Regions from separate parts of the Homo sapiens genome. Here all the other regions are linked to region 2. Evidence: fine-mapped expression QTL. A gene starts in region 2. Each other region holds a variant in brackets. All regions are shown on one strand. Distances are from middle to middle.

Region 1 (9,269 bases), 63 kb after region 2:
GGATCACCTGAGGTCAGGAGTTCGAGACCAGCCTATCCAATGTGGTGAAACCCCATCTCTACTAAAAATGCAAATATTAGCCAGGCGTGGTGGCAGGGGCCTGTAATCCCAGCTACTTGGGAGGCTGAGGCAGGAGAATCACTTGAACCCAGGAGGCAGAGGTTGCAGTGAGTCAATATCATGCCATTGCACTCTAGTTTGGGTGACAGAGTAAGACTCCATCAAGAAAGAGAGAAAGAAAAGAAAGAAAGAAAGAAAGAAAGGAAGAAAGAAAGAAAGAAAGAAAGAAAGAAAGAAAGGGAGGGAGGGAGGGAGGGAAGCAAGGGGAAGAGAGAGAGGAAGAGAGAGAGAAAGAGAAAGAACGAAAAAGAAAGGAAGGAAGGAAGAAAGAAAAAAGAAAAGAAAAGAGAAAAGAAAAGAAGGAAGGAAAAGAGAGGACACATGTTCAGGCCCCTTCTATCCAAAAAGTCTCCCCTTAATCTGCTTTCCCTCTGCAATAGCCACTCTATCTCTCCTCCTCTTCACAGCCAAAATTCTAGAAAAAAAGGTGGGGTGTGGTGGCTCACACCTATAATCCCAGCACTTTGGGAGGCCAAGGCGGGTGGTTCACCTGAGGTCAGGAGTTCGAGACCAGCCTGACCAACATGGAGAAACACCCTCTCTACTAAAAATACGAAATTAGCCAGGCGTGGTGGCGCATGTCTGTAATCCCCAGCTACTCAGGAGGCTGAGGCAGGAGAATCACTTGAACCCGGGAGATGGAGGTTGCGGTGAGCCGAGATTGCGCCACTGCACTCCAGACTGGGCAACAAGAGCGAAATTCCATCTCAAAAAAAAAAAAAAAAAAATTCTAGAAAAAAGCTTGTTTCCACTGTGTTGTCTTCACTTGCTCCAACCTCCTCACTGTTCAACCACTGCAATCTAACTTCTGCTTGCAACACACCAAAGGATGAACCAATGTCCCAAATGCTTCCTCGGTGCAAAGTCCACTGGTTGTTTCTCAGTCTTACCAAACTTGACCGCTGGGTCAACATTTGACTCTGTTGATCATTTTTTTTCTTCTTGAAGCATTCTCTTCTCTTGGCTTCCCTGATGCCACACTATCCTCCTATAAGGATAGTCAATTCATTCTGGTTTACCCGGGACTTTCCCAGGTTTAGTACCAAAAGTCCCACAATCCAGGAGTCCCTCAGTCCCAGGCAAACCAGAACCATTTCACAAACTCATCTTTGATGATGACACTCATCCCATAGCATCATCATTTGAGTTCTCCCAAAAGCAAACTCTGAGATAAGGAGTTTAATGCATGCAGGTAGATTATTTTGGAGATGATCCCAGGAAACACCAACGGGGTGTGAAGAAATGAGGCAGGGCTGGGCACGGTGGCTCACACCTGTAATCCTAGCACTTTGGAAGGCCGAGATGGGCAGATCACGAGGAGTTCACGTGGAGATCACGAGGAGATCACAAGGGCAGAGGTCAGGAGTTCAAGACCAGCCTGGCCAATATGGTGACACCCCGTCTCTACTAAAAATACAAAAATTAGCCGGGTGTGGTGGCATAGGCCTGTAGTCCCAGCTACTCGGGAGGCTGAGGCAGAAGAATCACTTGAACCTGGGAGGCGGAGGTTACAGTGGGCGACAGAGCAAGACTCTGTTAAAAAAAAAAAAAAAAGTAAGGCAGAGAAAGAACAAGATGTGTTAAAAGATGTGTTATTGCTGGGAGCAGTGGCACACACCTGTAGTCTCAGATACTCTGGAGGCGAAGGCGGGAGGATTGCTTGAACCCAGGAGTTCAATGTTGCAGTGAGCTATGATTGCACCACTGCACTCTAGGTTGGGCAACACAGCGAGAACCTGTCTCTCTAATTTTTTTTTTTTTTTAGCAGAGTCTCTCTGTTGCCCAGGCTGGAGTGCAGTGGCATAATCTCAGCTCACTGTAACTTTCGCCTCCCGGGTTCAAGCAAATCTCCTGCCTCAGCCTCCTGAGTAGCTGGGATTACAGGCACGCACCACCACGCCCGGCTAATTTTTGTATTTTTTAGTAGAGATGGGGTTTCAACATGTTGCCCAGGCTGGTCTCGAACTCATGGCCTCAAGCGATCCACCTGCCTCGGCCTCCCAAAGTGCTGGGATTACAGGCGTGAGCCACCACACCTGGCCAGAGATGCTGTCTCTCTAAAAAAAATTTTTTTTAATTTTAAAAATTAACCAAAAATGTGTTAGTTGAGCAGGCTATCTCTCTAGGCAGGTGGAGCTTTACCCTAGTGGGGACTTTCAGGAGATAATGTGGAACATGCATCTCAGAGTCACCTCTCCCGAGGAACGAGGGAGCTGGGGTGGGAGATGGAAGTTGCAGTGAGCCAAGATCACACCACTGCACTCCAGCCTGGGCAACAGAGTGAGACTCCATCTCAAAAAAAAAAAAAAAAAAAAAAAGAAGGCAGCTGTAGAAAGAGATCAACAAACAGTGGGAGGCACAGATGGAATCTGAATCCCAGTTCTGCCATTTACCCACTAAATGACAATGGACAAGCCGTGAGACCCCACCTCTGGGCCTCAGTTTGCCCAGGTATAAAATGGGGTTGGTTAGCCAGGTGTAGTGGCACACACCTATAGCCACAGCTACTTGGGAGGCTGAGGTGGGAGGATCACTTGAGCCCAGGAGGTTGAGGCCACAATGAGCTGTGATTGCACCACTGCACTTCAGCCTGGGTGACAGAGTGAGACCCTGTCTTTAAAAAAAAAAAAAAATGGGGGCCGGGCACAGTGGCTCACACCTATAATCCCAGCACGCAGCACGTTGGGAGGCTAAGGCAGGCAGATCACTTGAAGCCAGGGGTTTGAGACCAGCCTGGCCAACATGGCAAAACCCCATCTCTAGTAAAAATACGAAAAAATTCACTGGGCATTACGGTGTACCTGTAATCCCAACTACTTGGGAGGCAGAGGCAGAAGAATGGCTTGAACCCAGGAGGCAAAGGTTGCAGTGAGCCGAGATCACACCACTGCACTCCAGCCTGGGAGACAGAGTGAGACTCTGCCCAAAAAAAAAAAAAGATTGGCGGGCGTTGGTAAATATTCCAACCTCACAAAGTCATGGTGAAGATTCAATGAGAGCCACTGCATTTATTTACCACACAATATATGTTTGATAAACCATGGTTATTATTTTTATCCAACTGTTGCTCCCCTGGACCTAAAGTGGTAAAAAGTGACCTCTTTCATATTTACCTCTCTGCAATTAGATAATCATGAGAGATGTGGAAGGGAGATAGGTTGGGACCAGTTCCACCAGGGGCCTCCTAGAGACGTGACCACAGACCCCTGCTTCCCCATTTCTCAATACGCATATCAGAAAACAACTTCCCTCTTCTGAAATGTGGGAACTTCCCCTGACCCCAGATAAAGTTGCTTGACATAACAGTCCCCTGGGTGGAGGGTTTACAACACGACACCCACCCACTCAGCAGGCTGCGGACAGTACAGGAGCTGGCTTTGGTAGTGATGCATCAGGGCAGCTGCAGAGGTGGGCAGAGGTGAGAAGAGAGGACAGACAGAACCAAAACTCAGTAGTGGGGTCGTGCCTGTGAAATGCCACTGCACTCCAGCCTGGGCCACGTCCTGAGAACCCATCTCTTAAAAATAAATAACGAGGCTGGGTGCAGTGGCTCACACCTGTAATCCCAGCACTTTGAGAGGCCAAGGCGGGTGGATCACTTGAGGTCAGGAGTTCGAGACCAGCCTGGCCAAAGTGGCGAAATGCCGTCTCTACTAATAATACAAAAATTAGCCGGATGTGGTGGCGCACACCTGTAATCCCAGCTACTCAGGAGGCTGAGGCACAAGAATCGCTTGTACCCAGGAGGAGGAGGTTGCAGTGAGCCGAGATCATGCCACTGTACTCCAGCCTGGGTGACAGAGTGACACTCCATCTCAAAAAAAATTTTTTTAATAACGAAATAAAAGAACAAGTAGATTTAAAACAAATCAAAGAAACAGGAAGTGAAATCAGCTCCGACCTCTCCCACCACCTGCTCTCCTCACAGTCTCCTTGCTATAAGCACCTGTTCTCAGACAAAACAGGAAAGATTCTGCTATTGATTAAGGGAGCTTATTGATCAATAAATTGATCGCAATCCTTGTATTTTAGGAGGCTGAAGCAGGAGGATTGTTTGAGACCAGGAGTTTAAGCCCAGTCTGGGCAACAAAGCAAGACCCCTGTCTATACAAAAAAAAAAAAAAATTAAAATTAGCTGGGTGTGGTGGGGGCACACCTGTAGTTCTAGTTATACAGGAGTCTGAGGACGGAGGATTTCTTGAGCTCAGGTGTTTGAGGCTTCAGTGAGCTATGATTACAACACTGCACTCCAGCCTGGGCGACAGAGTGAGACCTTGTCTCAAAAAATAAAATAAGGCCAGGCATGGTGGCTCACGCCTGTAATCTTAGCACTTTAGGGGGCTGAGGTGGGCGGATCACTTGAGGTCAGGAGTTCGAGACCAGCCTGGCCAACATGGCAAAGCCCTGTCTCTACTAAAAATACAAAAATTAGCCAGGCATGGTGGCACGTGCCTGAAATCCCAGCTATTCAGGAGGCTGAGGCAGAAGAACCAGTTAAACCTGGAAAGCAGAGGTTGCAGTGAGCCGAGATCACGCCGCTGCACTCCAGCCTGGGCAACAGAGCAAGACTCTGTCACAAAAAAAAAAA[A/TA]AATAAATTGATTGGTTTGGAGAATGTCTACCCACCCTTGGATGCAATTCAGGGATTGTCCAAAGGGAATACTATGTTGAGTTATGCCTAGCTGGGAGTAGTACCAGCCCTCTAATTGGTATTTTTTGGTTGTCACATGGCCAGGGCAGGAGGGTCGGGTGGGGGTCACTCTGGCAGTTTGTGAATGTTATGGGCCAAATTGTGCCACCCCTCCCAAATGCATATGTTTAAATTCTAATTCCCAGGACCTCCTAATATGGCTGTATTTGGAGACAGGATCTTTAAAGTGGTCGTTGTAGGCCCAGCACAGTGGCTCATGCCTGTAATCCCAGCACTTTGGGGGACCAAGGTGGGCAGATTGCTTGAGCCTAGGAGTTCAAAACCAGTCTGGGCAACATGGTGAAACCCCGTTGCTACAAAAAATACAAGAATTAACCAGGCACGGTGGTGCACACCTGTAATCCCAGCTACTCAGGAGGCTGAGGCGGGAGGATGCTTAAGCCTGGGAGGTGGAAGTTGCAGTGAGCTGAGATCACACCACTGCACTCCAGCCTGAGTGACAGAGCGAGACCCTGTCTCAAAAACAAAAGAAGAGGAGGAGGAGATTAGGACCCAGACACACAGAAGGAGAACCAGGTGAAGACACAGGGAGAAGAGGATCATCTACAAGCCAAGACAGGAGGCCTCAGAAGAAATTAACCCTGCCAACACCTTGATCTTGGACATCCAGCCTCCGGAACTGTGAGAAAATGCATTCTGTTGCTGAAGCCACCCAGTCCTTTGTTATGGCAGCCCCAGCAAACTAACACACAGTAGACAAGGAACACCCAACATAGTGGCATTTTGAGAAGCACTAACATTGCAAGAGCTAATAGCCCAGGAAAGTCCACACAGAAGTAAAGTGAATTTTTATTTTTATTTATTTATTTGAGATGGAGTCTTGCTCTGTCACCCAGGCTGGAGTGCAGTGGCACAATCTCGGCTCACTGCAACCTCCGCCTCCTGGGTTCAAGCAATTCTCGTGCCTTAGTCTCCTGAGTAGCTGGGATTACAGGCACATGCCACCACGCCCAGCTAATTTTTTTGTATTTTTAGTAGAGATAGGATTTTACCATGTTGGCCAGGCTGGTCTCGAAATCCTGACCCCAGGTGATCAGCCCACCTCAGTCTCCCAGAGTGCTGGGATTACAGGCGTGAGCCACTGTGCCTGGCAAGTAAAGTGAATTATATCATCAAAGACGTTACAACCCACAGATAGCTCAAGGGCACGTGCTGGCAGATAGGTCCATCGTTGTCCTGTGTGGATATGACCAGGTTATGGCCTGCCTGGCCACACTATGTAGGGGTCTTGCTTTTCAGCTGGTATGCCTTTCTAGAAGTTCCATGGGCCAGCCAGGTGTGAGGGTGAACGCCTGTAGTCCCAGCTACTTGGGAGGCTGAGGCAGGAGGATCACTCGAGCCCAGGAGGCAGAGGGTGCAGTAAGCTATGATTGTGCCACTGCACTCCAGCCTGGGTAGTAGAATGAAACCCTATCTCAAAAAAAAAAAAAAAAAAAAAAAAGGATAGAAGTTCCACGGGCCAAGTCTTCTGGCAAAAGTCTGATTCTGCCACTTAGCTTGTGCAAACCTCACCCAAGACATTGAGAAAGTTGCTGGTCAAAAATAATTTTGATGGTTTCTGGGTTATTTGTGCTGTTTGAGACCAGGAAGGAAGCAGTGTCTGGAGAGGACGACATGGGGTGAATATAGAAGCTCTCCTGTCTTCTCCGCTGATGTTCTGTATTTTTAGGTTTGTAATTTGCAATGATGTGGGGACTACATGAGACCAGCCCACTTAATGTATTTCTGTGCGAGGCAGATCTAGAGGTCTAGCTCAAAGGGAAATTTTTCTGTCACCACTTTCAAAGCTTTTGTTTGGAAAAAAAAAAAAAAGGAAAAGATGGGGAAAGTAAAAATAAAAATAAAAATATCGGCCAGGTACGGTGACACATGCCTGTAATCCCAGCACTTTGGGAGGCCATCACGGAAGGATTGCTTGACCCCAGGAGTTTGAGACCAGCCTCGGCAACAGAGTGAGACCTCATCTCTATAAAAATAATAATAATAATTTTGAGCCAGGCACAGTGGCTCACACCTGTAATCCTCACAATTTGGGAAGCCCAAGTAGGAGGATCCATTGAGGCAAGGAGTTTGAGACTGGCCTGGGCAACATAGTGAGACTCCCTCTCTTTAAATGCTACAAAAAATTGGCCAGGCATGGTGGTGCGCATGTGTAGTCCCAGCTACTCAGGAGGCTGAGATGGGAGGATCACCTGAGCCCAGAAGTTTGAGGCTGCAGGAAAAGGAGCCCAGTCCCAGCTCTTTGTGGTTCACAGGCGCCAGGATATTTCATCCCAGGTTCAACACCAGCCCCAGGGTCCTCAGGGCTAGTATCACTTCCCAAGAGTCATGATCAGGAACTTAGTGAAGATCCTTTCAACCCCAGAAGTGGGAGACCTCCCACCACCAAGCTCTGAGCATCCTCCCAGCTCACCATCTACTAGGGCAAGCCCAAGTCCTCACTCTAGAAACAGCCTGACTTGCACCCCTGGGAACTTGCTGCATCCAGGGTGCCAATCCTGTTTGAGGCACATCTGTGTGTCCACTCACGAAGAGGCAAGGCCGTCCACGAAAGGGCAGGAGATTCTCATCTCAAAGAGACACTCAGATATGGACCCCCAGCCTCGGCCCTGGGCTTCAACAGGAACATTTCCGCTCACAAATCCAATACGTAGTTTTGTAGCAAGAGAGATCATTCCAGGTGCCACCTTTGTTCATGGTAGCACAGTCCTCATCGTGGATGTTATTGGGTTCCTCTGGCTCCCAGAAGCTGGATGGAGGAAAAAGTGGGCAGAGGGACAGGGATCTTTAGGGTGGTGAAACTCTTCTGTATAATACTGTAATGATGAATACCTGGCACTACGCATTTGGCAAAACCCATATTAGGCCGTGTGTGGAGCCTTACACCTGTAAGCCGGGCACAGTGAGCCACCGTGCCTGGCCCTTAATCAATTTCTGGTTTTGGGGGGTTTTTTGTTTTGTTTTGTTTTGTTTTGGAGACAGAGTCTCACTCTGTCGCTGAGGCTGGAGTGCAGTGGCGTGATCTCGGCTCACTGCAACCTCTGTCTCCTGGGTTCAAGCAATTCTCCTGCCTCAGCCTCCCAAGTAGCTGGGATTACAGGTGTCCACCACCACACCCGGCTAGTTTTTATATTTTTAGTAGAGACGGGGTTTCACCATGTTGGCCAGGCTGGTCTTGAACTCCTGACCTCAAGTGATCCGCCCGCCTCAGCCTCCCAAAGTGCTAGGATTACAGGCACGAGCCACCGTGCCTGGCCCCTTAATCAATTTCTGAATCTGGTCAGTTTCTGTCTTGTCTTCCAAGGACTCTTTCTTTTACAACCTCCCAACCCAACCTTCTAGGAATTGTTTAGATCATGTGGGCTCTTGCTTAAAGCAGGGCCTGATTCAGGGACTCGAGTGTGTAGGATTTATTAAAGGATGTTCTTAGGAGAGAGGTGAGGGAAGCTAGATGGAGAAGGGGAAGGAATTGAGCAGGAGCATGGACTCAGATGACTCTAGCCTCAGCCTGACCCCAACAGAGACCACTGGGATGTCAACAGCACCAGAGTCATCCCAACTTGTCACAAGGGGTCCAGGCTTCTCTTAGGCTGTCACCGGTTGTGAGCTGACCCCAGTGGAGTTGGGTAGTGTCTTAGGTGAGCAGGCTCCCATTCAGCTGAGAATAGCTTTGCGGAAAAAGCATTCCTGTGAGCCTTTAGCAGCCAATGTTCCGCCAGGTGCGGTGGCACACACCTGTAATCCCAGCACTTTGGGAGGCCAAGACGGGTAGATCACCTGAGGTCAGGATTTCGAGACCAGCCTGGCCAACATGTTGAAACCCCGTCTCTACTAAAACTACAAAAATTAACCAAGCATGGTGGCGGGCGCCTGTAATCCCAGCTACTTGGGAGACTAAGGCAGGAGAATCGCTTGAATCCAGGAGGCAGAAGTTGCAGTGAGCCAAGATTGTGCCACTGCACTACAGCTCGGGCCACAGAGTGAGACTCCGTCTCAAAAAAAAAAAAAAAAATTAGCCAGGCATGGTGGTGCGCACCTGTAATCCCAGCTACTCAATAGTCTGAGGTGGGAGAATCACTTGAGCCTGGGAGGCAGAGGTTGCATTGGGTCAAGACTGCACCACTGCACTTCAGCCTGGGCAACAGAGTGAGACTCTGTCTCAAAAAAAAAAAAAAAAAAAAAAATTCTTCCTCATCCTTCCACCCTCCCTTTTTTCTCCCAACCATTAGCCTGGAGAGCTTGATATATTTCAGCAGTTTTACGAAAAGACTGAGATGTTGCAATGGAGGAAATATTGAAGGTTCAGGGTCCAGACAGCCTGTCACCAAAAAATCACCCTGGTGCTGTCCCTGTCTGGCCAAGCCTGGGATGCTAGACACCCTATCAGCTTGGACTGCAAGGATGCCAAGCACACAGGGAAATGGGAATGACTGGGGGTGGT
Region 2 (10,899 bases):
GAGTCTCACTCTGTCACCCAGGCTGGAGTACAGTGGCACCATCTTGGCTCACTGCAACCTCAGCCTCCTGAGTTCAAACGATCCTTCTGCCTCAGCCTCCTGAGTAGTTGGGATTACAGGTGCGTGCCACCACGCCTGGCTACTTTTTTGTACTTTTAGTAGAGATGGGGTTTCGCCATGTTGGCCAGGCTGGTCTCAAACTCCTGGCCTCAAGTGATCCGCCCACCTCAGCCTCCCAAAGTGCTGGGATTACAGTCATGAGCCACCGCACCCGGCCAATGGTGTACCTTAAAATTAATAATGCTTTAGATTTGATGAAATAGGATATGAACAGAGAAATGAGAGAAGCTAACTCTATCTTAGAGGCAGGGAAGGGCACAGTGGAGAGTATAAACCAAAAGTAACTGAGACAGGTCTCAATCAATTTAGAAGCTTATTTTGCTAGGGTCAAGAACATGCCTGGAAGAAAGGAACACAGAAAAACATACTATCATCTGTTTGTTTCTCCAAAGATAATTTTGAGGGCTTCAATATTTAAGGGGGAAAAGCAGACTGGAGGGGAAAGAGGGAGAGTTTGGTCACATTACTGAACCAATGTGTTGCCAGAGATAAAAGGAGCAGGTGGGGGACTAGTCAATGATGTATTCACCTTGTGCTCAGTAAATCGGCACTTTATGTAAGATAAAATGAATATACAGTAGCTACCTGTGAAGATATCTGGCCTTTTATCTGTAGCTGTCTGCTTGACTCCGCTTTCAGCTTAATTTTATTCCTGAATTGGAGTCCTGAGACTTTATTTTCCTTTCACAAGAGTTTATCATGGAAGGACATGCAAAAGAATGCCACTTGAAGGACGTGGCCAGGAGTAGAGTGGCAAGAAAGAAAAAGAAAGGGCATTCCAGGTGGGGCACAGTGGGTCACACCTGTAATCCCAGCACTTTGGGAGGCCAAGGCAGGCAGATCACTTGAGACCAGGAGTTTGAGACCAGCCTGACCAACGTGAGGAAATTCCATCTCTACTAAAAATACAAAAATTAGCCAGGCATGGTGGCGGGTACCTATAGTCCCAGTTACTCAGGAGGCTAAGGCAGGAGAATTGCTTGAACCCGGGGAGCGGAGATTGCAGTGAGCCAAGATCATGTCACTGTACTCCAGCCTGGGTGACAGAGTGAGACTTTGTCTCAAAAAAAAAAAAAAATGGGGGGGCATTCCAGGTTGAGAGAATCACATGTACAAAGGCATGAAAGGCTACAAATAGAATGTGGAGTTTAGGGAAACAGAAAATGTATCAGGGAAGGTGGAAAGGCTGAAGCAGAAGGGTAGGAAATGAGGCTGGAGAAGTGGAGTGGGACCAGAGTGGGGTGAGATTTATGCACCTACTAAGTAAGTGCATTTAGCCTGTGAAATATTCACAGGGTTGTGAGGCAGAGGTGTGATGGGCCCAGAATCATCTTTCAGAAAACTGTCCTGACTGCACGGTGGAGGATGGGACAGAAGGACAACGAGTTACGAGACTATTGCAGTTATCCCAGATCAGAGATGCCTGCAGAAAAGAGAGGTTGAGTAACTTTCCCAAAGTCACACAGCTAATCAGTGGCAGAGCCAGGATTTGAACCCAGGGATTCTGACTCTGCAGCCAACATTCTGTAATAGCATAACTACTGAGTTAAGCCATTCTTGCATTGTTACAAAGGAATATCCAAGGCTGGGTAATTGATAAAGAAGTGTTTTAACTGGCCCGTGGTTCCGCAGGCTTTACAGGAAGCTGACATCTGCTTGGTTTCTGGGAAGGCCTGGGAAGCTTCCAATCATAGCAGAAGGTGAAGGGAAAGTAGGTGTCTCATGGTGAGGGCAGGAGCAAGAGAGAAGAGGGGAGGAGTCACACACTTTTAAACAACCAGATCTCATGAGAACTCACTCACTATCATGAGGACAGCACCGAGGAAATGGCACTAAACCAGCCATCAAAAATCCACCCCCATAATCCAATCACCTCCCACCAGGCCGCACCTCCAACACTGGGGATTACATTTCAAGATGAGAGTTAGAGGGAACAACATCCAAACTATGTGAACCACTTTGGCCTGACCATTAGGTAGCACCACCTGTCTCTCTTGATCAACTCTTGCCTCTACAACCCCACCCCTAGACGATCACTAGGGAGAAAGATCAGGAAGCCTCACTGCATGCATGCTGGGACAGTAGGATGTTGAGAGCCCAACAAACCTACTACGTACGTTCATGGCCTTGACAATCCCAATAGCCAGCTAATTCCACCATGCTCCAAACACCCAGGGAGGTCTCTTGATCATCTTGCTTTGCTCATACTTTTTTCTCCAACTGTCTTTACAGGTGACTTCACTTGCTGTCTCCACTTCTTCCCCTCGCGCTTTTTCCTCAATCCACATAATTCTGGCTTGAACCATTATAACAACAACCTCCACCACCTTCCCTACCATTATTGGCATCACCACCATCTTTACCTCCACTATCAACATAACCACCACCGCCACTATTTTCACTCCCATCTTCATCACCACTGCTATCACAGCCTTCATCACCATCACAACAGTCACCTTCACTACAACTGTCACCATCAATCACCATCATCACCACCATCTCTGAAAACATCACTGTGATGTTACCACCACCATTGCTACTACCACCGTCGTCACTTTCGTCACCTTCAGCCCCATCGCAACCATCATCATCACCACCATCATCACTTCCGTCATCACCACCACGACCTCTACCACCACCATCGCTACTGCCACTACCATGATGACCACCATCACCACTGCAACCATTCTATCACCATCATCATCACCACCACAACCGTTATTATCATCATCATCATCACCATGTTAGATATGAGTTCTAAATTTATTTTCAAAGAATTAATATGTCAGTATGTTCAATTCTTTGCCTTCTACTTTTAAACTTAACTTCCTCGTAAAGCAGCTTTTTCGATTACCTACTCCACCCTGACTCATTCTGATCACCTGCTCCACCCTAACTCATTCCGATTACCTGCTACCTGCTCTGCCCTGACTCCCGCCAAAGCACTCACCCCGTCATTCTCTTTAAATTAGCCAATCGGCATTAGTTTAGCCTGCGCGGTCTAATCCTAGCCAATAGGGGAACGACACAGCAGCAGGGGCCACCTGAGTCAGGGATAAGAACCCCTTCCCCTCCCATGTCCGAATGTGCGCTCGCCACTGTTCCATCTGTAAGGGCACACCCTTCTATATTGAAGTAACTTGCCTTGCTGAGAATTAAAAGGAAAATTTTATATTCAAGTGCTATTTCTTTCACGTCACCGAAACTTTATATATAACAACCACCACCACAACCGCTATCATCAGCATCAGCATCATCACCACCACCACCACCTTCACTACTGTAATTGTTCATGCTAAGAATACAAACAACCCCCTTGCAGCTCTCTCCTGTGGGTGTCTTTCAGTCTTAATTCAGTGTGATCTCTTTCCTTTACCTCCATAATACCATACTCCATTCATTTCCCACCCCCACCCCTCATCTCTCTGGCCATTCTCGTCCTGTCTCCTCTATTAGCTGCCTCTCCATTCCTTTATTTTTTTTAATTTTTTTCTATTGCCTTTGCACAAATTAACATTGCCTGAGTTTTTAAATGAATTACTCAGGGTTCTTTTTCCACTCTATAATCTCTCCCTAAATGATTTAATCCATGACCGTGTCTTCAGTTGCCACCAGGGCTACTTTCTTGCAGTGGTTTTTTTGTTTGTTTGCCTGTTTGTTTGTTCCTTTTTGTTCCTGTTGTATCTAGTGATACAAGAGCTAAAAAGATATTATTCAGGCAACTGGTGAGGGTAAGAGAGTCCTCAGTAAGGCTTCCCTGTTAACAAAAAGCAGCCCCAAAATCATTTCTTTTCGTCTTTACCTCCACTACCAATATAACCACCACCTTTGCTATTTTCACCCCATCATTATCACCACTGCTATCACAGCCTTCGTCACCATCACCACAACAATCACCTTCACTGCAGCTGTCACCTTCAATCACCATCATCACCACCATCTCTGAAAATATCACCATAATGTAACCATCACCATCGCTACTACCATCACCGTCACTTTCATCATCTTCACCATCATCGCAACCATCGTCATCATCACCATCATCCCTTCCTTCATCGTCACCACCACCACCTATAGCTCCACCATCACTCCTGCCACTACCATGATTACCACCATCACCACCACAACCGTTATTATCACCATCATCATCATCACCACCACGACAAAGAGCAGTCTGCAAAATCGAGCTACAAACATAAATAAGCAAGCTGGAAGTTTGCAAAGGTAAATGCAGCGGCTGTGCCAATAGGAAAAGGCTTCCTGGGGGCAGGCATGTTCAACATGGAGGTTCCCTCTTCCCTTTTTTTTTTTTTTTTTTTTTTTTGAGACAGAGTCTCGCTCTTTCGCCCAGGCCAGACTGCAGTGGCGCTATCTCGGGTCACTGCAAGCCCCGCCTTCCGGGTTCACGCCATTCTCCTGCCTCAGCCTCCCGAGTAGCTGGGACTACAGGCGCCCGCCACCGCGCCCGGCTAATTTTTTGTATTTTTAGTAGAGACGGGGTTTCACCATGTTCCCTTTTCTTTATCACCACGTGTGCAGTAAAAAAGCAGGCAACATAGTGCCAGCCAGGTAGAGACCCCATCTGCATAGTAAAAGATGAGGATGGGGCGGCCAGCTTCTTTGCGTGCTATGCAAACAGCACACCCAGTCCGACCAATCTCTCGGTTCCTGTGTAAATCAGACAGCTCCTCCTCAAGCTCGGCTATAAAACCCCATGTATTTCACCACGAGACCAGAAGACTCACTTGGGAGCCCCTCTCTCTCTGCAGGATAGAGCTTTTCTCTTTTTTCTCTTCTCTTGCCTGTTAAACTTCTGCTCTGAAACTCACTTTTTTTTTTTTTTTTTTAGATGAAGTCTCACTCTGTCACCCAGGCTGGAAGGAACTGGCGCAATCTTCGCTCACGGCAACCTCTGCCTCCCGGGTTCAAACAATTCTCCCGCTTCAGCCTTCCGAGTAGCTGGGATTACAGGCATGCGCCACCATGCCCAGCTAATTTTTGTATTTTTAGTACAGACAGGGTTTCACCATGTTGGCTTGGCTGGTCTTGAACTCCTGACCTCAGGTGATCCGCCCGTCTCAGCCTCCCAAAGTGCTGGGATTACAAGGGTGAGCCACAGTGCTCGGCCTTAAATTCACTTCTTGTGCATCCGCATCCTTGATTTACTTGGCATGAGAGGATGAACCCCAGACAACAACACTGCTTCAGTAGGAAGTCTGGTGTTTTAAGTCTAATGAAGAGCTTCAGAAGAGTTTTAAGCAGGGGAGCCGGGTGCAGTGGCTCACACCGGTAATCTCAACACTGGGAGACTGAGGCAGAAGGATTGCTTGAGCCCAGAAATTCAAGACAAGCCTGGGCTACAAAGCGAGGCCCTGTCTCTCTTCAAAAAAAAAAATAAAAACTAAAAAAAATTAGCCAGGCGTGGTGGCATGCACCTGTAGTCCTAACGATTCAGAGGACTGAGGTGGGAGGATCGCTGGAGCCCAGGAGTTTGAGGTTGCAGTGAGCTATGATTGTGCCACGGCACTCCAGCCTGGGTAACAGAGCAAGACCCACATAAATAAATAAATAAATATTTGCTGGAGGAAGGGTAGATTTACAGACTTTTTCTCCCAAGTCCTGTGACTGGTTAGGGTTGGTCCAAATAACCAAATAATGTATTACCTTCTATGAGACTTTGGGACTCTTAACTTCTTATGGCTCAGCAATCATAACCAGTAAGTATCATCTACTGGGGGAAGAGAAAGATATGTTAAAATGACTCCTCTGGAAACTTCAGATACCAACACAGACACCCTAAAATCTGGTTTACTCACCTCAAAGCCACAGGCTTATTTAAGATTTATTTTGGCCCCAAAGGCACTTCCTAATCCTCAGACAATGTGATGTAACTTTCAGGGCATTTCCTCGTTAGGGTTTACCAACTCAATCATCCCAAAGGTGATCAACAATAGCTAGGCAGAAAAGGTACAGCAAATAAACGAAAAGCAGAACCATGAGTCTGATGGCGAAAGAGGGGAAGCAGTTTGCTTTTCTGATAGCAATTTCATGAGTCAGCTGACCTAAGATACATACTTCAATTCTCATGGGATTTCTTGAGCTAGGAAAGGTGGTTGGCTTACGGCACAGTAGAGAGCTTCCAGGGCTGGCTGGCGTGGGATACCCGTACCACAGAAATGCAGGGACCATTGCTTCTTCCAGGTATGTGTGACTGTAACAATGACTGAGGCTTAACCTATCCCCCAGTCAGGGACCACTTGGTTCAACAATTGGTTATTTTCTCCTCCTCTTTCTTCTGCTCTGAACACTCTCACCTTTTCCCTTTGGAGTGTGGTTTCCTTCCTGACTACCCTATTCAAAGTATGCTCTCGAATATCCCTAAAATGTTCCTATCCAATCTAGTAGCTTGGTTTTTTGTTTGTTTTGTTTGTTTGTTTTGTTTTGTTTTTTGAGACAGAATCTCACTCTGTCACCCAGGTTGGAGTGCAGTGGCGCAATCTTGACTCACTGAAACCTCTGCCTCCCGGGTTCAAGTGATTCTCCTGCCTCAGCCTCCTGAGTAGCTGGGATTACAGGCACACATCACCACACCTGGCTAATTTTTGTATTTTTAGTAGAGATGGGGTTTCACCATGTTGCCCTGGCTGGTCTCGAACTCCTGACCTCAGGTGATCCACCCGCCTCAGCCTGCCAAAGTGCTAGGATTACAGGCATGAGCCACCGCACCCGGTCTCTAATACGTTGTTCATCTTCCTCTTGGCAAGTTTTGTTTTCTAATTGATGTCTTCTCCTTCTTGATAACTTCTGCAAACTAGCCCTGCCCTGACTTTTTTCCTTTTTCTCTTGCTATTCTTTCTTCTCCCTCCTTTATCATTTTCCTGTGACAAGAAAATAAATGATAATTTTATTATTAATTTTAGAGGTCATTATATTAAGTGAAATAACTCAAACACCAAAAGACAAATGCCTCATGTTCTTGTTTATCAGTGGGAGCTAAATAATGTGGACACATGGACATAGAGAGTAGAATGATAGACGATGAAGACTGGGAAGGCTGAGGGAGTAGAAGGACAGTGGAAAATAAGAAGTTACCTAATGGTTACAATGTACATCATTTGGATGGTGGATACTCTAAAAGCCCTGACTTCACCACTATGAAATCTATGCGTGTAACAAAATTACACTTGTATCCCATAAATTTATACAAAGAAAATAATGATAACCAACATTTTTGAAAACTCACTATGCACCTTACATGTATTAATCTGTTGCATCATCAGTATGCTCATGGGGTATCCTCATCTTACAGATAAGAAAACTGGGGCACAGGTTATGTTATTTGTCCAACATCACACAGCTAGTAAATAAGAGAGCTGGGATTTGAATCCAAACCATCTGTCTCCAGATCTTTGCTATAATGCTCCTCCCACAGGATCCTTACTGGGATCTTCTGTTTTTCTACTCCCTCTCCCTATGGGAATCTCCTAATTCCATGGCTTCAACCACCATCTCTGTACGGATGAAATCCCATCCATCTTTCCAGCTCCAGATGAATTAACAATATTGATAGTCCCAATATCAATCAAAGCTTACATTTATTAAGCAGCTACTTTAGCCTGGCATTAGGCTTAAATTGCTTTACATTGTCACATAGCATCTGCACATTACAGATAAGAAATTGCATCATAGAGAGGTTCTGTGAATTTCTCAAAGCCTCACAGCTATTCTGCTGCAGAGGCAGCTGATAGGCTGTAAATTCTATCAAAATAATACAAGCTACACTTAAATCCTAATGCCATGTCTCCCTCACCTTTGCAACCCCTAGCATAGCATCTTATATATAAGAGGTGTTTCAGTATATGTGGAATCAAATGTGAAAGAAGCCTGCCTTTTTGCAACTGGAGACAGAGTCCTCCACACTTCTGAGGTGGATTATTAGTGAATTTTGGTTATCCAGGAACTTTTAGCCCATATCACTGGATGGTACAGGCAAGGGTGATGATATGAGCATTGGGTCAAGAATTAGGATTCCAGGGTTGGGCATGGAGGCTCATACCTATAATCCCAAAGCTTTGGAAGGCAAGGCGGGAAGATTGCTTGAGCCAGGAGTTCAAGACCAGACTGAGCAACATAGCAAGACTCTGTCTCCAAGAAACATTAAAAAAAAAAATTAGCCAGTCATGGTGGCACACACCTGCAGTCCCAGCTACCCTGGAGGCTGAGGTGGGAGGATCGCTTGAGCTCAGGAGTTCAAGGTTACAATGAGCTGTGATTGCATCACTGCACTCCAGCCTGAGCAACAGAGCTCAAATGATAATATAGGCAGCAAGCTAGAGCAATTAGGCAAAAAGAGAGAAAGAAAAAGCATCCAAATGGGAAAGGAGGAAGTCAGATGGTGACAGAGGCAGCCAGTATCAGTGGAGGACTTCCTGCCTGACATTGTGCTCTACACAGTCCCTCATTTAGGTCATCTCCAAAACCCCACAAAGTAGGTCATACTGCCACCCTATTTCACATAAGGAAGCTTAGAGAAGTTAAACAACTTACCCAAATTTGCCCAACTAGTGTGCCAGCCACTTAACCCCAGGGGACCTGTTTCCTCATCTACAAAATAAGTCAGTGGATGATTTCTAAAGTTTCTTAGAACTCTGGGATTCTGACACACCGATGACTCTTCAGAAACCCTAACTTAAGACCTTTGCCCAAATTAGTGAGTACAGGCTTGCTGGTTAGACTAAAGACTAGTCTTAAGGAAACATGATGGTCCCCCAGACTGCCTGAGTTTTAGGAACAGGGTAACACTATTCAGCCATATGGTTTATCAGTTGGCCCTGTGAGCTAGTCATCATTTGGGCAGGCGTAAGGTTTGTGTGGCTGCTACACATTCATGTATATACAAAAGAAGAAAGTGCCTCACGCATATAATGCCAACACTTTGGGAGGCCACAGAAGGAGGATCACTTGAGGCCAACAGTTCAAGACCAGCTCGGTCAACACAGCAAGACCCAATCTCTACCAAAAAAATTTTTTTTAATTGGCCACAAGTGGTATCTCATGCATGTAGCCCAGGAGTTCAAGGCTACAGTGAGGTATGATTGCACCACTGCACTCCAACCGGGGCAACAGAAAAAGAACCTGCCTCAAAAAAATAAAAATAAAAATAAAAAATGTAGAAGGAAGGGGACTTTAAAGGAAACATCAGCCTGACATTAAGCCCAGCTGAGAATATTCAAAATGTTCTGTGAATGCAATTGCATAAGTAACTGATCACAAACCAGACCTGGCATCTTCTTGGGGGAAGGGTGAGAATTACAGGAAGAAAAATAACAGTCCCCCCAGAGACATCCACATCCTAATCCCTGGAACCTGTTAATATGTTACCTTACATGGTAAAAGAAACTTTGCAGATGTTGATTAAGATAAGAATCTTAATATGGGGGTAGTACCCTGAATTTTCCAGGGGGCCTAATATAATAATCACAAAGGTCCTCTTAAGAGGGAGGTGGAAGATCAGGAAGACGAGAAGATGCTGTGCTGCTGGATTTAAAGAAGGAGGAAGGGTCCGTGAGCCAAGAAATGCAGGCAGCTTCTAGAAGCTGGAAAAGGCAAGGAGACAGATTCTCCCCTAGAGCTTCCAAAAGAAACCAGCCCTACTAACATTCTTGATTTTAGCCTATAGAGGCTGATTTAAGACTTCTGACTTCCAGACCTGTAAGAGAATAATAAATCAGTGTTGTTTTAAGCCACTACAGTCATGGTAATTTGTGATAGCAGCAATTGGAAACTCAAGAGAGAGATCCAGAAGGATTTAGATTGCTGCCATTACCTCTCCTGAAGAGTCACACAGTTAGCCCCCAGGGCCTCTTCTCCAAAATCCTACAATTGGTCTGCACTGCCCTAAATGACCAAGTCACATACCACTCTCTACGGGACTTTGAGGCTCCAGTCAGATCTGGTGAGTGGCATCTGCCGGGGGAAAAAAGGACAAGTCACTGTCACAATAAACATGCCAACCTACAGTGTCTACAATCTGAACAGCACTTCCATGCAGGTAGTGCCCTGTGGGATTTCTGAAGGAGAGGCTATGTGGTGTAATGGGTTATCAGCTAGAACCCAGAACCCGTGTTTAACCTCAGCTCTGCCACTGACTAGCCCCAGTGAATGGAGCAAGTTACTTACCTTCTCTGTGCCTCCATTTCTTAATCTGAAAAGCAGAGATGATGCTAATAGCACTTTCCTGCTAAAGTCGTTGCAAAGCTGAAGTGACAGAAAAAAAGCAGTCCATCTGTCCAGCATCTTTAGGTCTTTGCAGAAGCAGGAACATGACTGATGACATCATCGGATGTTGGAAAGGCATGGGGAAGAGCAAAGGGCTCTTTACCAGCCACAATAGAGCCAGCCTGAGCAGACAATTTTCCAAAAAGGTGGAAATAATATCCCCCATCAAAAATGTGTTTCTAGAACCTTGCTGGTCTCTCATAAGGAGGAAGAATTTGATTCTTCTCCACTTGAATCTGAATGAGCTTGTAACTTGCTTGTAACCAAGGGAATATGATGGAAGTAGAGCCAGGTGACTTTCAGGGATGAGTGTCAAGAGGAAATGCAGCCTCATCAGCTGGGACACTCATGCTTAGAGCTTAGATGTTCCATTAAAGCAGCTTGCTTCAGGTCTCCATGTTTGAAGGAAGCCCAAACAAGCCCAACACCCTGAGACAACAGGTGAAGGGACAATGCCCAGCTAGTTCTCAGCCGTTGCAGCCCCATCCACTAACTGACTAT
Region 3 (8,000 bases), 34 kb after region 2:
AAACTGTGGTTCCCAGGGAGCCTTTGCTTTATTTTATGTTACATAAAATCCCAAAAGAGCTGCGGTTATGGATCGGGGGTCCTGGTGGCCGCATAAAATAGAAATCAGGTACAGCGGCTCATGCCCATAACCACAGCCTCTTGGGAGGCCAAGGCAGGAGGATTGCTTGAGGCCAGGAGTTCAAGACCAGCCTGGGCAATATGTTGAAACCCCATCTCTACTAAAAATACAAAAGTTAGCTGGGCATGGTGGTACACACTTGTAGTTCTAGCTACTCTGGAGGCTGAGATGGGAGGATCGTTTGAGCCAGGGAGGTCAAGGTGGCAGTGAGCTGTGATTGCGTCACGGCACTCCAGCCTGGGTGACAGAATGAGACCCCGTCTCAAAAACAAACAAACAAAACAGAAATCACCTGAGTCACTCTTCACACAGGTGCCTTAGCAGGTGGCACCCTGGCATAGGCCAACACTGAGAACTGTCCCTCCTGAGGAAAAAGACAATGAGCTGGCCAGATGCAGTGGCTCATGCCTGTATGATCCCAGCACTTTGGGAGGCAAAGGCAGGAAGATTGCTTGAGTCCAGGAGTTCGAGACCAGCCTGGGCAGCACGGTTGACCCTGTCTCTACAAAAAATACAAAAATTAGCCTGGTGTGGTACTGCACGTCTGTAATCCCAGCTACTTGGGAGGCTGAGGCAGGAGAATCGCTTGAACCCAGGAAGCGGAGGTTGCAGTGAGCCGAGATTGAGCCACTGCACTCCAGCCTGAGTAACAAAGCAAGATTTTGTCTCCAAAAAAAAAAAAGAAAGAAAGAAAGACAAAGACAATGAGCCCTTTCTATTTTCTATTTTCAGATGACCCCCAGTACCAAAAAGGTCTTCTGTGTCTACTGGAAGAGCACAGGGCAGGGCAGCCAGTGGTCCAGGGATGGCTGCTTCCTGATACACGTGAACAAGAGTCACACCATGTGTAATTGCAGTCACCTGTCCAGCTTCGCTGTCCTGATGGCCCTGACCAGCCAGGTATGATGTATATGTTTTATTCTTCCAGCAAATACTTTCTGAGCCCCTACTAAGTGGTAATAAGTGCTATTAAAAAAAAAAAAAAAAACTGAAAAAAGGCCGAGCATGGTGACTCATGCCTTTAATCCCAGCACTTTGGGAGGCCAAGACGGGCAGATCACCTGAGGTCAAGAGTTTGAAACCAGCCTGGCCAACATGGCAAAAACCCATCTCTGCTAAAAATACAAAAATTCGCCAAACATAGTGGTACATGCCTGTAATCCCAGCTACTCAGGAGGCTGAGACAAGAGGATGGCTTGAACCTGGGAGGCAGAGGTTTCAGGGAGCTGAGAGCAAGCCATTGCACTCCAGCCTGGGTGATAGAGCAAGACTCCATCTCAAAAAAAAAAAAATCAACATGTGGAAAAGACGCAAGGTAAGAAGTCCAGGAGAAACCTGGTGCAAGCTTCCAGTGTCCTCTCCCAGGAAAGTCACACAGATGCAGTTCATTCTCCCAGCAATGACTTATGACAACGCATGTGAAGTGTTGTCAGCCAGGGAAGCTCACCAGAGCTTTGGTGTTCAGGGTGTGTATTGGGGGATCATTCACATAGGGATGCAATGCCTACATGGTTGACCTCAGTTGCTCAGACTATAGGACCCCAGGGCAAAGATATGATTACTGGGCCAGGCACAGTGGCTCACACCTGTAATCCCAGCACTTTGGGAGGCCGAGGCAGGCAGATCACGAGGTCAGGAGATCAAGACCATCCTGACCAACATGGTGAAACCCCATCTCTACTAAAAATACAAAAATTAGCCAGGTGTGGTGGCACACGCCTGTTGTCCCAGCTACGCAGGAGGCTGAGGCAGGAGAATTGCTTGAACCTGGGAGGCAGAGGTTGCAGCGAACCGAGATCACACCACTGAACTCCATCCTGGCGACAGAGCGAGACTCTGTCTAAAAAAAAAAAAAAAAAAAAACCATGATTACTATAAACCACATCATGAATGACTACTATTAAAAAGTCAAAAAATAACAGATGCTGGTGAGGTAGCAGAAAAAAAGGAACACACACTGTTGGTGGGGTTGTAAATTGGTTCAACCATTGTGGAAAGCAGCATGTCACTTTCTCAAAGAGCTGAAAACAGGACTACCATTCAACCCAGCAATCCTGTTACTGGGTATATACCCAAAGGAATATAAATCATTCTATCATAAAGACACATGCACATGTATGTTCACTGCAGCACTATTCACAATAGCAGAGACATAGAATCAACCTAAATGCCCATCAATGGTAGACTGGATAAAGAAAATGTGGTACATATGGAATACATACACCATGGAATACTATGCAGCCATAAAAAAGAATGAGATCATGTCCTTTGCAGGGACATGGATGGAGCTGGAGGCCATTATCCTTAGCAAACTAACACAGGAACAGAAAACCAAATACTCGTGTTCTCACTTATAAGTGGGAGCTACATGAGGAGACATATGGACACAAAGAGGGGAACAACAGACACAAAGAGGGTGGAGAGTGGGAGGAGGGAGAGGACCAGGAAAAATAACTAATGGGTACTAAGCTTAATACCTGGGTGATGAAATAATCTGTACAAGAGACCCCCGCGACAGGGGTTTACCTATGTAACAAACCTGCACATGTATCTCTGAACTTAAAAAAGTTTTTTAAATCCCTTCATTAGTATGAGCTCTCTGATCAAACTGGTACTGCATAGCACAAGCCCTCTGCATACAAAGACACTTTATTTTTTTTTTAGATACGGGGTCTCACTTGTTGCTCAGGTCGGTCTTGAACTCCTGGCCTCCAGCAATCCTCCCACCTCAGCTTCCCAAAGCATTGGGATTACAGGTGTGAGACACCATGGCCCAAAAATCACTTTGTAAAGATTGTGGTAAAATACACAGAACATAAAATTTACCATCTAAGCCATTTTTAAATGTATATACAGTTCAGTAAAGTACAATCATATCGTGCAATCATCAACCACCATCCATCTCCAGAACTCTTTCATCTTGCAATACTGAAACTCTTCACTCCTTAACCAACTCCCTATTCTCTCTCTCTCCTCTCCCCAGCTTCTGGTAACTGCCATTCTACTTTTTTTAGGGGAAAAAAATCATATGTCCAAACTCATCAAAGTGTATACATTTAATATGAGTAATTTTTGATACATTAAGTATACACCTCAATAAAGCTGAAAATAAAAAAGACAGTCTAGCAATCTATATTAGCAGTCTACATTAACAATCACATTAGCAGTCTGTATTAACAATCTACATTGGCAGTCTACATTAACAATCTACGTTAGCCATCTATATTAGCAGTGTATATTAGCAGTCTACATTAGCAATCTACATTAGCAGTCTAACGGTCCCACACTACCACTGGGCTTGGTGCCTGTGTCTAGGATGCCCCAGTTCAAGGAGGGAGCCATAATCCCAGTGCAGGAAAGCATCACTGTGAACTTTTTTTCTCGGTCCCAGGAGGAGGATCCCGTGCTGACTGTCATCACCTACGTGGGGCTGAGCGTCTCTCTGCTGTGCCTCCTCCTGGCGGCCCTCACTTTTCTCCTGTGTAAAGCCATCC[G/A]GAACACCAGCACCTCACTGCATCTGCAGCTCTCGCTCTGCCTCTTCCTGGCCCACCTCCTCTTCCTCGTGGGGATTGATCGAACTGAACCCAAGGTACTGACAGTGTCTCAGAGGATGCCCTTTCTGCCCCAAGGTACACTGAGCTCATGGAGCAATGCTGCACTAGATTCCTTAATAAAATGTCCTTGGGTCTGTAGAGGAGAAAAATATAATTTTCCCGCTACCCTTCTGAGATCGTAGCTGGGACCCATGTAACAAAAGACAGATAAGAGAAAAAGCAAACAGAAGTTCATTAACATATATTCATATTTCATATATACATGGGAGATACCCAGGTAACGAGGCATTCTCAAAGAGGTAGTTTAGAACGACAGCGTTTTTGACAAAGAATGATGAATTTTTGAAGAAGGGAAAAAGATCTTGGCTCTCTAGGGGCACAAATTATGGGAAGGCAAATATCTGGGAAATGAGTGATAGATAAAGGCTTACTAGTATCATTGGTTGTATTACTCCATTTTCAGGCTGCTGATAAAGATATACCCAAGACTGGGAAGAAAAAGAGGTTTAATTGGACTTGCAGTTCCACATGGCAGGGGAGGCCTCAGAATCATGGCGGGAGGCGAAAGGCACTTCTTACATGGTGGCTGCAAGAGAAAAAATGAGGAAGATCCAAAAGCAGAAACCCCTGATAAAACCATCAGATCTCGTGAAATTTATTTCCTACCACGAGAACAATATGGGGAAAACCGCCCCCATGATTCAAATTATCTCCCACCGGGTCCTCCCCACAACATTTGGGAATTATGGGAGTGCAATTCAAGATGAGATTTGGGTGGGGACACAGAGCCAAACCATATCATTGGTTTTGTAGATTCCTCTGGTGTTGGCTCCAGACCAATGAGGATCTAAAGTTGTCTCGGTGGCCGGGCACAGTGGCTCACACCTGTAATCCCAGCACTTTGGGGGACTGAGGTGGGCAGATCACCTGAGGTCAGGAGTTCAAGGCCAGCCTGGTCAACATGGCAAAACTCCGTCTCTACTAAAAATACAAAATATTAGCCCAGCGTGGTGATGAGCACCTGTAATCCCAGCTACTTGGGAGGCTGAGGCAGGAGAATTGCTTGAACCCGGGAGGCAGAGGCTGCAGTGAGCCAAGATTGCGCCATTGCACTCCAGCCTGGGCAACAAGAGCAAAACTCCATCTTAAATAAATAAATAAGTTGTCTTAGTGATCAACTTTTGTCCCCCCCATAGCAAGGGTAGGAGGGTAGAAGGAAGAGAATAGGTATGAGGAATGCCTTTGTAAACTAATGTCCTGGAATACTATTCAGCCTTCAGAAAAAGAAGGAAATCCTGCCATTTGTGATAACATGGATGAACCTGGAGATTGTTAAGCTGAGTGAAATAAGCAAGGCACAGAAAGACAAACAGTGCATGATCTCACTTATGTGTGGAATCTAAAATAGCCAAACTCATAAAACCAAAGAGGGGAATGGTTGTTAGCAGAGACTAAGGCAGCAGGGAAGGGGTTTAGGGAGATGTTGGTCAAAGGATACCAAATTTCAGCTAGACGGAAAGAATAAATACAAGAGAGCTATTGTACATCATGACTATAGTCAATAACAATATATTCTATATTGAAAAATTGCTAACAAAGTAGATTTTAAGTGTTCTCACCCCCCAAAAAAGACAAGTACAAAAACGTATGTCCTGCTTTTAGGCAAATAGGGGGAGGGCAGAGAGCTATTTTTGTATCTGCTTCTTCTCAACTGCCTTCAGTTTAAAATAATCCCTTGGGCCAGACACAGTGGCTGACACCTGCAATCCCTGCACACTGGGAGGCAATGGTGGAAAGATCACTTGAGGCCAGGCGTTTGAGGCCATCCTGGGCAATATAGTGAGACCTTGTCTCTACAAAAAAAACAAAAAAAATAACAAAATTAGCTGGACACAGTGGTGCACGTCTGTAGTCCCAGCTGCTTGGGAGGCTGAGGCAGGAAGATTGCTTGAACCCAGGAGTTCGAGGCTGCAGTGAGCTATGATTGCAACCACTGTACTCCAGCCTGGGTGACAGAGCAAGACCATGTCTCAAAAAAAAAAGAATCATAATCATAATAATAATCTCTTATGCTAAAGTGAAACTTTTTTCTAAATTTTATTTTTAATTGAAAAATAATAAATGTATAAAATTATGGGGTACAATGTGAAGTTTCCATAGACATACACATTATGAAATGACCAAACCAGGATAATAAACATATCTATCACTTCCATACTTATCATTTCTTTGTGGTGAAAACATTTAAAATTCACTCTTTTAGGACTGGGGTGGCGGTTCATGCTTGTAATACCAGCACTTTAGGAGGCCAAGGCGGGAGGATCACTTCAGCCCAGGAGTTGGAGACTGGCCTGGGCAACACAGTGAGACCCCGTCTCTGCAAAAATTAGTGGATATGGTGGCACACACTTGTAGTCCCAGCTACTAGGGAGGCTGAGGTGGGAGGATCACTTGAGCCTGAGAGTTCAAGGCTGCAGTGAGCTATGATTGTGCCACTGCACTCCAGCCTGGGTGACAGAGTGAGATCCTGTCACAAAGAAATAAAATAGAACAAAATCCACTCTTTTAGCAACTTCAAAATTCATAATATATTAACTATAGTCACCACGCAATACAGTAGGAGTAGAGAGTAGAATGGAGGTTCTCAGAGGTTGAGGGGGGAAGTGGATGAGGAAAGGAGACATAGCTCAAAGTATACAAAGTCTTAGTTTAAAAGGAGGGGTAAATTCTGGTGATCTGTTGCAAAGTGGCATAGGTGGAGGTGGCACATTCTGCTACCCTTTCAGTCCCAAGGGCAGGTTGAAGGGATTGGTGCCCAGGTGGCCAAAGCTATCCTTGACTATCAACTATCTATTTTTTTAAATATAATTGAGATGGGGTCTCACTAAGTTGCCCAGGCTGGTCTCAAACTCCTGGGCTCAAGCAATCCTCCCACCTCAGCCTCCCAAAGTGCTGAAATTACAGACATGAGCCACTGCATCCAGTTCCCCTTTACTTTTAGTGCCCTTGGTCTGATGTCAGGTGCTCTGAACCCAAAGCCAATGTCAAGGAGAGGTCCTAGGGCCATACTCCACCCTGACAACCCCTTCAGGCATCCCTTTCTCCTCCCCCAGGTGCTGTGCTCCATCATCGCCGGTGCTTTGCACTATCTCTACCTGGCCGCCTTCACCTGGATGCTGCTGGAGGGTGTGCACCTCTTCCTCACTGCACGGAACCTGACAGTGGTCAACTACTCAAGCATCAATAGACTCATGAAGTGGATCATGTTCCCAGTCGGCTATGGCGTTCCCGCTGTGACTGTGGCCATTTCTGCAGCCTCCTGGCCTCACCTTTATGGAACTGCTGATCGGTGAGCTTGAATCCCACCTTGTGTCATGGACAGTTTCCTAAGAAAGCTTTTGAGGGCAGCATTCATGATGATGGTGGGAATATACGTAACCAATGCACTCTACGTTCTCCTTTATAACAGCTCTAACCTCTTTCCCAACAAAGCAGGGTGAGATGGTGGTAAGAGTTTGCAAGGTTCTGGAAGTCTTATACAACCAACAGGTTCATATGCCCACTGCACAGTAACGTACCAATCCACCAAGACAGCAGGGTTTGCAGCAGAGAAAGAGCTTAATGAGGCCAGGTGTGGTGGCTCACACCTGTAATACCAACAATTTGGGAGGCCAACGTGGGAGGATCACTTGAGGCCAGGAGTTCAAGACCAGCCTGGGCAATATAGCAAGGCCCTCATCTCTACAAAAAATTAGCTGAGCACAGTGGCTCACACCTGTAATCCCAGCACTTTGGGAAGCCCAGACAGGAGGATCACTTGAGTTCACAACTTCAAGACCAGCCTGGGCAACATAGCAAGACCTTGTGTCTACTAAAGATTAAAAAAAAAAAAAATAGCCAAGCATGGTGGTTCACACCTGTAGTCCCAGCTACTCAAGAAGCTGAGATGGAAGGATTGCTTGAGCCCAGGAGTTCAAGGCTGCAGTGAGCTATGCTCAGGCCACTACATTCCAGCCTGGGTGACAGATCAAGACCTTGTCTCAAAAAAAAAAAAAAAAAAGAGCTTAAAAATCTCAGGGCGCCAAGCGAGAAGATGAGAGAAGACTCTCAAATCAATCTCCTCAAGGAGTTCGGGACTGGGACTTTTAAAGGGATCATGGAGGGTGTGGAGGCTGGAAAATGTGGGTCAGGGTACAGCAGACAAAATCATCAGGAGACGGAAACTGCCTTCTTTGGTGACTCAGCTCCTTCTGTGGTCCTTCAGAGCAGCTGAAGCCAGTAGTTTCACTGGTACACAGGACCTGAAAGAATATCTCAAGGGGAAAC

Evidence for each region.
Region 1: its variant is fine-mapped to the expression of ADGRE3 in whole blood (INTERVAL, PIP above 0.99).
Region 3: its variant is fine-mapped to the expression of ADGRE3 in whole blood (INTERVAL, PIP above 0.99).

What each region holds. Positions count from the first base shown.
Region 1 is chr19:14,608,372-14,617,640 of GRCh38, reverse strand. CLEC17A (C-type lectin domain containing 17A) reads right to left here. Exons shown (of 14, transcript NM_001204118.2): 14 at 5,606-7,577. The coding sequence ends at 7,445. It also overlaps a transcript of ADGRE3 not described here. Among named protein-coding and RNA genes, the nearest start is that of SNORA104, 9.2 kb to the left of the region's middle. RefSeq lists a silencer at 3,366-3,415. The variant A/TA (reference allele first, on the strand shown) is at 4,709.
Region 2 is chr19:14,670,168-14,681,066 of GRCh38, reverse strand. ADGRE3 (adhesion G protein-coupled receptor E3) reads left to right here and starts at 6,223. Exons shown (of 16, transcript NM_032571.5): 1 at 6,223-6,321. The coding sequence starts at 6,297.
Region 3 is chr19:14,637,128-14,645,127 of GRCh38, reverse strand. ADGRE3 (adhesion G protein-coupled receptor E3) reads left to right here. Exons shown (of 16, transcript NM_032571.5): 9 at 853-1,020; 10 at 3,512-3,709; 11 at 6,788-7,023. Among named protein-coding and RNA genes, the nearest start is that of SNORA104, 19 kb to the right of the region's middle. The variant G/A (reference allele first, on the strand shown) is at 3,615.